Regions from separate parts of the Homo sapiens genome. Here all the other regions are reported to be linked to region 2. Evidence: microRNA targets listed by miRTarBase, many of them from high-throughput screens and not tested one by one. Region 2 holds a microRNA gene; each other region holds the end of a gene's coding sequence.
What was found. Region 2 holds the annotated microRNA hsa-miR-6131 (GGCUGGUCAGAUGGGAGUG, at 2,049-2,067, opposite strand). A microRNA usually pairs through its seed, bases 2 to 8, with sites in the 3' UTR of a target mRNA and lowers its output. Matches are read on the target gene's strand: a 7mer-m8 pairs with bases 2 to 8, a 7mer-A1 pairs with bases 2 to 7 and ends in A, and an 8mer does both.

Region 1: miRTarBase lists IFRD1 as a target of hsa-miR-6131. Seed matches in the 3' UTR shown: 7mer-m8 at 1,648-1,654.
Region 3: the mRNA of ARL5B is a reported target of hsa-miR-6131. Seed matches in the 3' UTR shown: 8mer at 2,503-2,510, 7mer-A1 at 2,041-2,047 and 7mer-A1 at 1,847-1,853.
Region 4: the mRNA of CYCS is a reported target of hsa-miR-6131. The part of its 3' UTR that is shown has no 7-base or 8-base seed match.

Annotation. Positions count from the first base shown.
Region 1 is chr7:112,474,811-112,477,994 of GRCh38, forward strand. IFRD1 (interferon related developmental regulator 1) reads left to right here. Exons shown (of 12, transcript NM_001550.4): 12 at 620-2,393. The coding sequence ends at 709. Among named protein-coding and RNA genes, the nearest start is that of LSMEM1, 4.6 kb to the right of the region's middle.
Region 2 is chr5:10,476,990-10,480,173 of GRCh38, reverse strand. It overlaps MIR6131 (microRNA 6131), which reads right to left and starts at 2,137; the gene lies at 2,029-2,137. It also overlaps a transcript of ROPN1L not described here.
Region 3 is chr10:18,674,893-18,678,076 of GRCh38, reverse strand. ARL5B (ARF like GTPase 5B) reads right to left here. Exons shown (of 6, transcript NM_178815.5): 6 at 1-2,909. The coding sequence ends at 2,861. Among named protein-coding and RNA genes, the nearest start is that of ARL5B, 17 kb to the right of the region's middle.
Region 4 is chr7:25,120,788-25,123,965 of GRCh38, forward strand. It overlaps CYCS (cytochrome c, somatic), which reads right to left. Exons shown (of 3, transcript NM_018947.6): 2 at 3,164-3,178; 3 at 1-3,062. The coding sequence ends at 2,914. Among named protein-coding and RNA genes, the nearest start is that of CYCS, 2.9 kb to the right of the region's middle.

The DNA.
Region 1 (3,184 bases), not on the chromosome of region 2:
TTTTCTGCATTAGTCATGATTTGTCTTTTCTTGGATGAAACAATGTTGATGTCCATTTTTCACTGTTGGTTTTTGAAATCGTCTAACTTTCTTGGCGTTTTACAATTTGATTAGTACTTTTCTTAATATGGAATAGCCATTAACTCTTTATTTATTTATTTTTTTTGAGACGGAGTCTCGTTCTGTTGCCCAGGCTGGAGTGCAGTGGCGTGATCTCGGCTCACTGCAACCTCTGCCTCTCGGGTTCAAACGATTCTCCTGCCTCAGCCTCCCGAGTAGCTGGGACTACAGGCATGTGCCACCATGCCTGGCTAATTTTTTGTATTTTTAGTAGAGACGGGATTTCACCGTGTTAGCCAGGATGGTCTCAATCTCCTGACCTCGTGATTCGCCCACCTCGGCCTCCCAGAGTGCTGGGATTACAGGTGTGAGCCACCTTGCATGGCCCCTGTTAACTCTTTGTTTTTCTCCTTCATTCTTTGTGTGTGTTTTATAAACATTTAAATGTTTATAGGGTCAAATTAGTTCATTTCTTTTCTTTGTGACTTTTACCCTTTTTCTGTTTTGTAAGAATATCTTAAGTCTTACTGATGCACGTTTTTCCTTTTTTTCATTTTAGCATTTATATAACTCTGCAGCCTTCAAAGCTCGAACCAAAGCTAGAAGCAAATGTCGAGATAAGAGAGCAGATGTTGGAGAATTCTTCTAGATTTTCAGAACTTGAAGACTATTTTCTAATTTCTATTTTTTTTTCTATTTCAATGTATTTAAACTCTAGACACAGTTTTTATCCTGGATTAACTTAGATAACTTTTGTAGCAGTGGTTATATTGCTTATAATTTAATGTACAATACTATTGAAACTGGTGAGTTCTGATTATTAAATATTCTCTGTAAATCAGTAAACATGTATAAAGTATTTGTAATGTTTGGTCATAATTTATTTATGAAGACAGCAAAAGACTGATTTCATGATGGGGAAAACAATTAGCCAAAGTTTAATTTCTTACACTGTGGTTGTCAAGAATACTGATTTACTATAATGATATATACATGCAAGATATTTAACTTAATATCTTAGACAAGAGTTCTGGGTACAATTTTGGGATCTAGTTCCCCTGGAAAAGCTGCTGTATTTTTAATTTTTAATGGAATGTAGCTTTTAAAATCCTGTCACTGGCATCAACAAAAGGAATTATACCATGAGACCTTATAGCTGTACTTAAAAGCCATTCAGTTCAGCTATTGGGAGTTCATGATGAATTAGCATATGCCAGAAAGGTTGCTAACCTTAACATCTGAGAGCAGTAACACTGATTTTATCTGCTGTATGAGACTTTGTGCATTTTACTTTGAAATAAAGATTTTTTTCCACACTGAAAGTGCTTCTCTTCTAATAGAAGAAATATTATTTATGGCTTTGAGGTACAGAGTCCAAAATGACTAGGCCAGGTGGGCAGGGAGACAAAGCTTTATGTGTATATTTACAAACATTAAAGTAGATGAAAAGAATGTAGCAATACATAATTGGGATTAAGGTTTCTGACTTTCAAGAATATTTCTGCTTGGCAACATGCAGTGTGGCTCATGCCTATAATCAGCACTCTGGGGAGGCTGAGGCGGGAGGATGGCATGAGCCCAGTTTGAGACCAGCCTGGGCAACATAGCGAGACCCTGTCTCTACCAGAAATTTAAAAAATGAGTGTGGTGGTGTGTGCTTCTACTCTTTATCTACTTGGGTGCTGAGGCAAGAGGGTAACTTGAGCCCAGGAGGTCAAAGCTGCAGTGAGCCGTGATTGTGCCACTCCAGCCTGGGTGACGAGTGAGACCTTGTCTCAAAAGCAAAACAAAAAAGAATATTGCTGCTTGTTTGCCCATGAGGTATATTTCTTTCATTTTATGAAAAGCATTTTGACAACACGTTAACATTTAATAAACTTTAGATTAAAATATATAGTGCAAGCAACATGCCATTTCAAATCCGTAGACTTGTTTCTTTGATACTCTTGCTGTAGGTCGCCGTGAGGGGTAGGGAAGCATATATACTGTAGGGAGAAGTATCAAAATCATTTAAGGTCTTTTTTCCAAACTAGTGTTCCCCTCCCACATCCCAACAACTCTTGGAAGTCTGGTGCTCCCTCTAGGTGAAAATCATTTGCTGGCTTATGGAGTCACTGTTGCTGAGTCCCATCCCCCAGTTACAGTGCAGTGGAAAACAGGTTTAGAATCTAGAACTTGTTTGTATGTTGTCACTTGGTTATGTTCCAAGTAGGTTAGAACCATGGAAAAGAGATTGCAAATGGTAGTTTCTTCTAGATATTCAAATGCATATATGTATGTACATGTAATTATAAATAAATAATGAATTTTTATTAAAGTGTTGTATGAACATAGGTTTTTGTTTGTTTTTGAGACAGTCTCCCTCTGTTGCGCAGGCTGGGGTGCAGTAGCGCAATCTTGGCTCACTGTAACCTCTGCCTTCAGGGTCCAAACGATTCTCCTGCCTCAGCCTCCTGAGTTGCTGGGATTACAGGTGTGTTCCACCACACCTGGCTAATTTATATTTTTAGTTGTGATGGGGTTTCACCATGTTGGCCAGGCTGGTCTTGAACTCCTGACCTCAAGTGATCTGCCCGCCTTGGTCTCCCAAAGTGTTGGGATTACAGGCATGAGCCACCGTGCCCAGCCTGAACATAGTTTAATGGTACTTCAAGGCTAATAAGGAAAGCCCCTTGCTCCATCCTTTCCTATTCCTCAGTCCCATCCCAAGAGACATTCAGCCTTCAGTTTTTTCTAGCTCGGTTCTTTCAGCCTTCAGTTTTTGGTTTTAGGTTTCTAAATAATATGATTATACAGCCATTTATTTTTTAGGTGTTTGTCAACTTACTATTAAGACAGGTGAAAATTTCTTTTATTGTTTCACATCCTTCTAATATTATTTTGGTTAGATCATGTACCTGTTTGCATAGCTGTGATCATACTTGTATGTTCACTCGTGAATTAATTTAATGTGCTTACATTTTCATTCTCATACAACGTTTTGTCTTGGAGTTAATGCTCTTTTTTTTGGCTTTTTATGCACATCATTGATTCTTCCCAAACAGTCCCAAATAAATTTGTCACAACTTTTCTTGATTCTGTACTTGTTTCAATCTAGACTAGTTTCTCTCATCCAATTGTATAG
Region 2 (3,184 bases):
CATTGGTTTATGGCCTATTTATTCATTTATCTGCCCTTGTGGAAGCTAAGAAGTTCCTATTTTTAGCACCTCCCATGCTCAGACATGGGTTATTTTTTGTCTTCAAACTCTCCTAAAGAGTTGACATGTTGGCTGGGCACAGTGGCTCATGCCTGTAATCCCAGCACTTTGGGAGGTCGAGGCAGGCGGATCACCTGAGGTTGGGGGTTCAAGACCATCCTGACCAACATGGAGAAACCCCGTCTCTGCTAAAAAGACAAAATTAGCCAGGCGTGGTGGCGCATGCCTGTAATCTCAGCTACTTGGGAGGCTGAGGCAGGAAAATTGCTTGAATTCAGGAGGCAGAGGTTGCGTGAGCCGAGATCGTGCCATTGCACTCCAGCCTGGACAACAAGAGAAACTCCGTCTCAGAAAAAAAAAAGAGTTGACATGTCCCAGCCTATTACCGCAAAGCCGTGCCGTGCATTTAGTGAGAGGAGACAGTAGGGACAGGAGCTCAGGCAAGAGGCCTCCTCTCCCACAGTGCCCAGGAAATAGTCACAAGGTGAGACGCCCGAAGCAGCTGCCAGCCGAGTCCCAGCCTGGCGTCCTGTGCTCTCCCTCGGGTTTCCAGGGAAGCAGGTGTGGCAGCCCCACCTCTGCCCACCCTGTTCTCACTCCACTTCCAGAGAGGAGGGTGCGGGTGTGAACTCTGCAGCCCGTGTTTGCAACTCTGCCAAGTAGGCGTGACCAAATGGCAATTTAAAAGCCACTCACCTAAAGATGTGGGGTGTCTGAGCCAAGCCTGAGCGCCCATTCTAATCCTGTAGAAATATTTGAAAGAGAATAGTCATCACATCTGGGGGGCTGGGCTCAAGATTTTTCTAGCACTGACTCACTCACAGAACTTGGGCAAGTCTTTACATTCTCCAGGTCTCAATTTCTGCATGGAAGCATGGAGACAGTCATTGTAGACCAGTGTCACTTTCCCTTATATGCTGGGGACTTGAAAGAACTATTACACACTCCAAAGTGACTAATTTATAGCTTAATCACTTGTAACATCTTTCTAACCTACTCACACACGTTACCATAATTATAGCAGCCACCTCAAAAACAAGGACACCAGGATAATCATGAAAACACTAAAAACAGAGTGCTAAAATATAGCTGATTTCGAAGGCATTAATCTTCCTAATCCTTCTGTGTGGACAAGAGGCTGCAAATATTGGTGAAAACATCATCCTCATCATCATCACATATCTTTACAACACCCTATATATTCTTTCCAAAATTGGCCATGCCATTTTGCCATCTTTTCCCGCTCCTGAGATAAGTAGAAAACTATTCTTATTTTCTCCAATTAGCACTTCTTTTAGGCATTGGAAACCTAGCAAGATTTGGGGAGGAAGATTTACTGGCTTGAAGAGTGTTTCCCACCCCAAAATTCATGTCCACCCAGAACCTCAGAATGTGGCCCTATTTGGAAACAGGGCTGTTGCAGATGTCATTAAGATGAGATCATACCACAGTAGGGTGAGCTCTAAATCCAACGACTGCTGCCCTTTACGAGAGGAGAGGATGCACAGTCGTACGCACAGAGAAGACCATGTGAAGAGGGAGGCAGAGATTGGAGTAATGCACCCACACGCCAAGGAATGCCAGGGATTGTCAGCATCACCAGAAGCTGGCAGAAGCAGGAAGGACCCCCACCCCCAGCCAGAGCCTTAGAAGGAAGTGTGGCCCTGCCAATCAAGTCCGGGAAGCTAGAAGTCCAAAAATTTCTAGCCTCCAGGACTGTGAGAGAATAAATCTCTGTTGCGGAAGCCCCTGAGTTTGTGATACTTTGTCGGGGCAGCCCCAGGAAGCTAATACAGAAAGGGTACTGGGAAACTGGGAGCCAGAGGCTCAGAAGGGAGCTCACAGAGGCTGCAGGAACTCAGCTACCACTCAAGTATCTGGAGAGGGCTCAAGGTTTCTCTGGTTGCACCTTGATCCATCCCAGTAGACACACAGTGCAGGGCCCACCACGTGCAGTCATGAAGCCGGGAGGACCCCGGGTCTCTGTCCACTCCCATCTGACCAGCCAGAACCCACCATCTCTGGCTCTACCCATGGAAGGAGGGCACCACCTGACCAAAGCAGAGGGAATGCGGGATGAGAAGGGGCAGCAACGAGTGTGCCTGATGTGCTCGCTGCTGATTAAAGCTTCCTTCAACAGAGAGTTTTATCCTGGAGGATTTTGAATAGTTTTTTTTCTTTTTTTAGACAGAATCTCACTCTGTCACCAAGGCTGGAGTGCAGTAGTGTGATCTTTGCTCACTGCAACCTCTGCCTCCCGGGCTCAAGTGATTCTCCTGTCTCAGCCTCCCAAGTAGCTGGGATTATAGGTGAACGCCACCATACCCAGCTAATTTTTGTATTTTTAGTAGAGATGAGATTTCACCATGTTGCCCAGGCTGGTCTTGAACTCCTGACCTCAAATGATCCGATTGCCTTGGCCTCCCAAAGTGCTGGAATTACAGACATGAGCCACTGTGCCTGGCCTTATCCCAGAGGATTTTCCAGAATATTAAGCATACATGTCCTCTTCCTGCCATCCTCACGGAGCATCTGCCCTCCTGTCATCTTGCTCCTAAGTTTCCCGCCCTTTTCCTCAGGTCCTGAGAGAGTCTTGATGGCTGACCCAAATCCTTCCTTCCTGTCCATCAACAGATGTCAGCTCAGTTCCTGGCTGGCTGCGTGTCCTTGTTCCACCTGTAGTAGGACCGCTTTGCTTTCTTCATCTATACAGTGTGAATAACGGTAGCAGGAGCTACCTATAGATGAAGGTAGCAAGTCTGTGGACTAGCAAGTCCGTGGACCAGGACATGGAGCGCCCCACACAGTGCCCAGGTCAGTGGCCCTCGGTAAATGTGGGTTAACCTCTTTAACATGTTGAAAAAGGTCAAGGTTAACTGCATAGACCCGGGGTCAGCAAACAATGGCCCACAAGGTAAAAATGGTTTTTACACTTGTAAGTAGTTGAAAAAGTTCAAAAAGAAAAATATTTTGTGATGTGGAATTCTATGAACTTAATTTTAGTGTTCATTAATAAAGTTTTATTGGAACACGGCCACACTCACTCATTTTCATATTGTCTATGGCTGCTCTCATGCTACACAGCAGAGCTGAGCAGTTGCAGCAGAGACTGCATGTCTGCAAA
Region 3 (3,184 bases), not on the chromosome of region 2:
TTCTCAAATGGGCTTCAATAAGAATGATGGGTTTAAAGATGAAGGACATGACACGCTCAAAATTAAGAAAAATGCTGTATTTGAACTTGCAAGGATAATTGAACACTTTGGTTATAACATACTTAAAAGATTTCTGTTAAAATTTAATTTCCTTGTTTTCAAATTAAAAGGTAGAACAGTCTCCTGAAGGTAATGTAGGTGGGTCCCTTGCTTTTCACTTACTATAAACTGTGCTAACCAATACATGGAGGTGAAGGGGGATATAAAACACAAATTATTTCATCACTGAAATAATTAGCTGCTAACATGACTTCTAAAGAACAGGTATAATATAAAACTAAGAACTTATTTCAAAATATGAATAAAGGCACTAATTACAAATGTACATTTTTTAGACAGTATCTTACAGTTCACTGATTTACAATGAATGTCAGAACCAATGCTCTAGTATTAGATACTTGCTTGGGTTAAAACATTCTCTTGGAGTAAAGAATAATCAGTTTTCACGTTACTGTGACAGGAAAGATTGAGTGAAAACCTAAAAAATACTCTTAAAAAGTCTTACATGAATTTCCTAATCATGAACTTTTCCCAATCAGCACCGTCTACACTGATGCCAATTTCATCTTCAACACATGGCTAACATAAATCATTTCTAATCCAAAACTAACCAAATATTTTTTAAAGGATTTACAAAATAAATTGTATTTTAAAAATTAAATAGCAAATTTGAGTCTATACTAGTAGTTGGCAAAATACAATCAACTATTAAAAACACTTTTAATATAATGCTGATGTGGTAATATAAAAAATAACCATATAATTTGACAGAAGAAAATTGAGCCAGCCAATCTTACTAGATACAAGAAGGCAGATAGTCATTTCATAAGAACAAATACAGGAGTACTAAGTATGCTTTTTCTCAGGACAGACTTAGGGAAACTACCCTCAGTACTTACGGTAAACAACACAACCAAGCAGAAATTCAGGCAAACTGTGCTTAGGTAAATGGCATTTTCTTAATTCCCCCACATCCCACACACACCACAAACCATCCATATCGATTTATGTCTGCTTTTCGCTCATGTTCTTGATTATGGGTTATATTAAAAACTAAGTTAAACTACACTTATCCTCTACTTGATACAGAATCACTAAGAAAACGGCTTAAAACAAAGTTAAACAACTACTTTCCAAAGCCCAGAAAGCTTTCCTTTGGCCACTGTTCAGTTCAAGGGTGTGCTCCAACTAAAGATAAATCAGAAAAATGTTACCACATTCGACTAAATTAACTTGACTAAATATAATAAACCAAGCACACCTGAAAAAAGAGCAAAATTTAAATCAACTTACAAAAATATTAAAATTAAAATACCAATTTTGAACACATATTTTGATATTATGAACTTTGTATCTTTTTTATCAAAATTAAAAAGTACTGCAAAAATGAAGTATTATTCTCTAAGTATTCATTTTATCCCTTTCATTTCAGCAAAATCACACATTTGAATAAACAGGATCGAAATACGACACTTGTCTTTCCTCTTAATTTAAGGAATATATTGTTTAGATTATTGTTCATATTAGACAACTGCCTCAAAAATGTTTTAATGCCATCCAATAAATAAACTTTTGATAGATTATGACTTTTTTTAATTTTAAGTTGTTAAGAATATTAACTTTGAGTCTCCTATTAATATTCTAAAAGCTAGGATTCAATTCAGCAGTTTCCTATAACATTTTAGAACCCAAGGCATAACTACAAAGATGGCAATTGTTTCAAGTCTATTACATAATACCGTCAAATAAATTCAAGGAAAGCCATGTAGTTTTTTAAGTAACATACTGCTGGTAGTAAAAATGCTATGACAGACACGACTTCAAATTTTAAGAAACAAAATGGACTGTTCATACTTCGGCTTCAGCTACTGCCCAAAGCAGCTGTGATATATCTTGCAAAGAAAAGAGCTAAAATTTCTGTTGATAATAAAGTTGTTTGTAAACTGATGCTAAAATATATTCCAATTGTCTTATTTTTAGTGCTGGTATGATTTACTAACTTCTGATAGTTTTATATGCATTGAATAATGTGATATTCTTAAAATAACAGATTTATTCAAGAATATTTAACATCAAAGTTGGGCTTTCAAATAAATATTTTACCTTGGTTAGTTTTTGAACAAATGTTGCAGGCAGAAGAGTGGACTTGATTCCTTTAGATAAATAAACAGCCTACTTAATTTCCATGCAAATAACAACTTAAACATTATTCCATGACTCAACAGTAATGTGGGGGAAAGTTAAAAGGCAAGTACTCATGATGTGGAATCTTCCTTACATATATCCTCTAGGCAGATTTCTTTCTTTACAGTAAGTTCTGTCCGAAAGATGAATGGTTTATAGAGGGAACAAATATATTTAGTGCTGGAGAAGTCTGCAGGCAGTACCTGATGGTTTCCAAGACTACTCTATCAAACCAGTAATTCTCTGGTTGGGAGGGAGTGCTGGTCAAGAATTGAAAGCAATTGGTCATTAAGGTTATAAGAATATTTCAGAAGACATCACGCATATGACAAACATTTCTTACAAGGCAGTCACTGATTAATTAGAATAAACAGAAGAATTGTTGCTGAAAACATAGTTATACATTACATTCATCCAACTGAAGATTAGTGTGTTAAAAAAAAAAAGTTAAGAAAAAATCTTTTATGTTCCAGTTCAGCTGCACTTGATTCAAGTGTTGCTCTCAGAGGTTTGTGTTGTTATAAATTAAACATGCTGCTGCCTTAGCAGCCAAAGGTACTAGGAAAAAATGTTCATGTCACAGAATAAATAGAGCAGTCTCTTTCAAGCAAAAAAGTTATCTCACACCAATCCGGGAGGTCATCCACTCTAGACCTTGGCATAACCTAAACAAAAGATAGAAGTATTTTTAATTAAAAACCTTATACTTAAAAACTGAAAGCGTACTTATTATTTTTAGGTCTTAACCAAAGGCTGGTAGCACAATCATTATTTATATACATCAGTGTCAACATTCAAGTCACACTATAATAAGTGAAATTTTTAAATGGAATGTTCTCTTAAATATTCTTAATCAGTTTGTGGGAAATTGCTTCAGTCTCATCTTGAAGATACAACTTTGCCAGTTTTGCCATGAAGAGTGCAAATACTCCCCGCCTTT
Region 4 (3,178 bases), not on the chromosome of region 2:
TTTCTGAAGGTATATATCCCTGATAGAAATGTCCTTTTTAAAAAATTACATAATTGGCCAGGCGTGGTGGCTCACGCCTGTAATCCCAGCACTTTGGGAGGCCGAGGCAGGTAGATCACCTGACGTCGGGAGTTCAAGACCAGCCTGTCCAGCATGGAGAAACCCTGTCTCTACTAAAAACACAAAATAAGCTGGGCATGGTGGCGCATGCTTGTAATCCCAGCTACTTGAGAGGCTGAGTCAGGAGAATCGCTTGAACCTGGAAGGCGGAGGTTGCGGTGAGCAGCGATCACGCCATTGCACTCCAGCCTGGGCAACAAGAGTGAAATTATCTCAAAAAAATAAAAATAAAAAAGTTACAGAATCACATTTTAAACCACCAGAAGTGCTTGGGTATAACTGACCTAGAACATGGCAGTTACTCATCTGTGCCAACACAGACCTTAATATAGGAGGCATAGAAATGAGAAAAATTGGCCGGACGTGGTGGCTCACACCTGTAATCCTAGAACTTTGGGAGGCCAAGGTGGGTGGATCACGAGGTCAGGAGTCCAAGACCAGTCTGGCCAACATGGTGAAACACCATCTCCACTAAAAATACAAAAATTAGCCAGGCGTGGTGGCGGGTGCCTGTAATCCCAGCTACTCAGGAGGCTGAGGCAGGAGAATCACTTGCAACTGGAAGGCGGAGGTTGCAGTGAGATTGCACCACTGTACTCAGCCTGGGCGAAAAGGGCGAAACTCCGTCTCAGAAAAAATAAATGAGAAAAATTTTAAACCTGAAAAAAAATTAAACCTAAGTTACTACTGGGCTGATTACTTCTGGGTTAAATAATAAGATTTCTGAATTTGAAAACCAGGCAGGGCCTGGTGGCTCACGCCTGTAATCCCAGCACTTTGGGGAGCCAAGGCAAGTGGACGGATTGCTTGAGCTCAGGAGTTTGAGACCAGCCTGGGACCACATGGCAAAACTCCATCTCTACAAAAAAATTAGCTGGGCATGGTGGCGAACACCTGTAGTCCCAGCTACTTGGGAAGCTGAAGTGAGAGAATCGCTTGAGCCTGGGAAATAGAGGTTGCAGCCAGCCGAGATCGCACCACTGCACTCCAGCCTTGGCGACACAGCGTGACCATGTCTCAAAAAACAAACTAAACGCCACAACTAGCCAAGATGGAAGGTTGAACACATTTCTGTATCTATCTTAATATGTTTCCTGTATCATTTCCAGGATGCCAAAAAAAAAAAAAATCAACTCTCTAGCCTTCACTTCAGGTCTTTCTCATTAGTCCAGAATTGTCCCCTTGTAAGCTACTTGCTACACTGTCCCTGAATACCACTAACTTTATACAGTCACCAAGTCCTCTGCTACAAGGCCTTTCAAAGTCTGAAATCTTTAAAGGATTTCCAGGATGCATTTTTAAATTCCCCACCAGAACTCAGACTAGGACTTCAAATATGAATTACAGCAAGCTTTCCACATTTCTATAAATAAAAATAAGACTCATATGTTATAAATTGCTTTCAGGCCTTAAAACACCTATCTAATCGTCCCTATCACCTTTGAGACCATGGATTCACATCTTCTCAGTCTTCTCACTGTCCCACAAAGATACAGTTCTCAGCTGCACCAGCATAGATTTATTTTCTCATTATTCTTTATGACTTACCTTGTGCTCACCATCTCCATAAAATCTCCAAGGACTACTCTAAATGTGTATGGCACAGACTATGCATGAAATAATTCAGTATGTAATTATACACTGTTACACATCACAAAACTATGACCACAGGCATTCCTCTGTCCATGTCTGGCATAAATGCTGCAGTTCTCAATCTGAGCAAAGAAACTAAGAGTCAATTAGTGAAGTGTTATTCTAGTTGAGGCAGTCCTAGAAAACCAAGTAAACAATCTAGCACCATGACTGGTTAACACTGCTGCACTGACATTTAGGGCTGCTGCACTGACATTTAGGGCTCCTGCACTTTTTAATCATTAAAATTTGTGCATCAGTCATGAAATCAAGCACAGTCAAAAAGTCATGATCTGTGGTTTTCTTTTTAATTATCTTTAGTCTTGTGATCACACATAATTTTAAAATTTGTGTATATCTCCGTTACTTTAATCCTTTTAAGTTGGCAAAAGCACCATTCCCAATCAAATACACAGTTCTACAGTTTTGTTTCTGAATGGCTGTTTAAAGACAATCCTAAATTATAACTTAGTTTGACTTAGATTGTAAAGAATTCAAGAGTGAAGTTTAACTTGCTACTATTTTAAAAGCATGTGACCTTATAGATCTGTAAGATGTGAGAGGTGTTGAATAATCTTTAATATTACACATAAACCACACTAAAATGCCTTTCAATAAGTAAAAGAAACCATTTTAAATACAGGGAATTATAATTAGATTGGCATAGTTAAGGCCAAAACTATAGACATTGCTACCTTATTTATCTTCAACCCTTGCCTTTAAGAGGCAAATGAACATGAACACAAAACACAGGTGAATCTTGCTTGGTTCTAAGACAGTGAAGCAATTTCCCCAGTATTTAAATATATTCACATAACCAGTTATATAAATCTAAATATAAAACCAATCTCCAGTAAGTTTTAAGATGGCACTCACCATCTTTGTGAAAAGTTGAACATTACTAACGAAGTCTAATCATATCTTTAAAAGGGGTAAACAGTGATACCATTTACTGAATTGGAGTTACTATTAAAATTCAAAAACTGAACATATTCATTTAACCACAAGCCAGTCTTAGTTTTAAATCAGGACTGCCCAACAAAATATTCTGTCAGTCATTCATGATCTGAATTCTGGTGTATGAGATCTATTAAAGGATGGTACACATAAAAAAGTCATGAGACATTTCTGTTTTGTAATAAATAAGGCAGTGGCCAATTATTACTCATTAGTAGCTTTTTTGAGATAAGCTATTAAGTCTGCCCTTTCTTCCTTCTTCTTAATGCCGACAAAGATCATTTTTGTTCCAGGGATGTACTTCTTGGGATTCTCCAAATACTCCATCAGTGTATCCTCTCCCCAGATGATGCCTAAACAAGAAAGAATGCATCGGTTATTTCACACTCCTGATAGTTTGCCACATGTTATATTCCTGCATTTTGTGTTGTTTTATTTAACAAGTGACTCTTACCTTTGTTCTTATTGG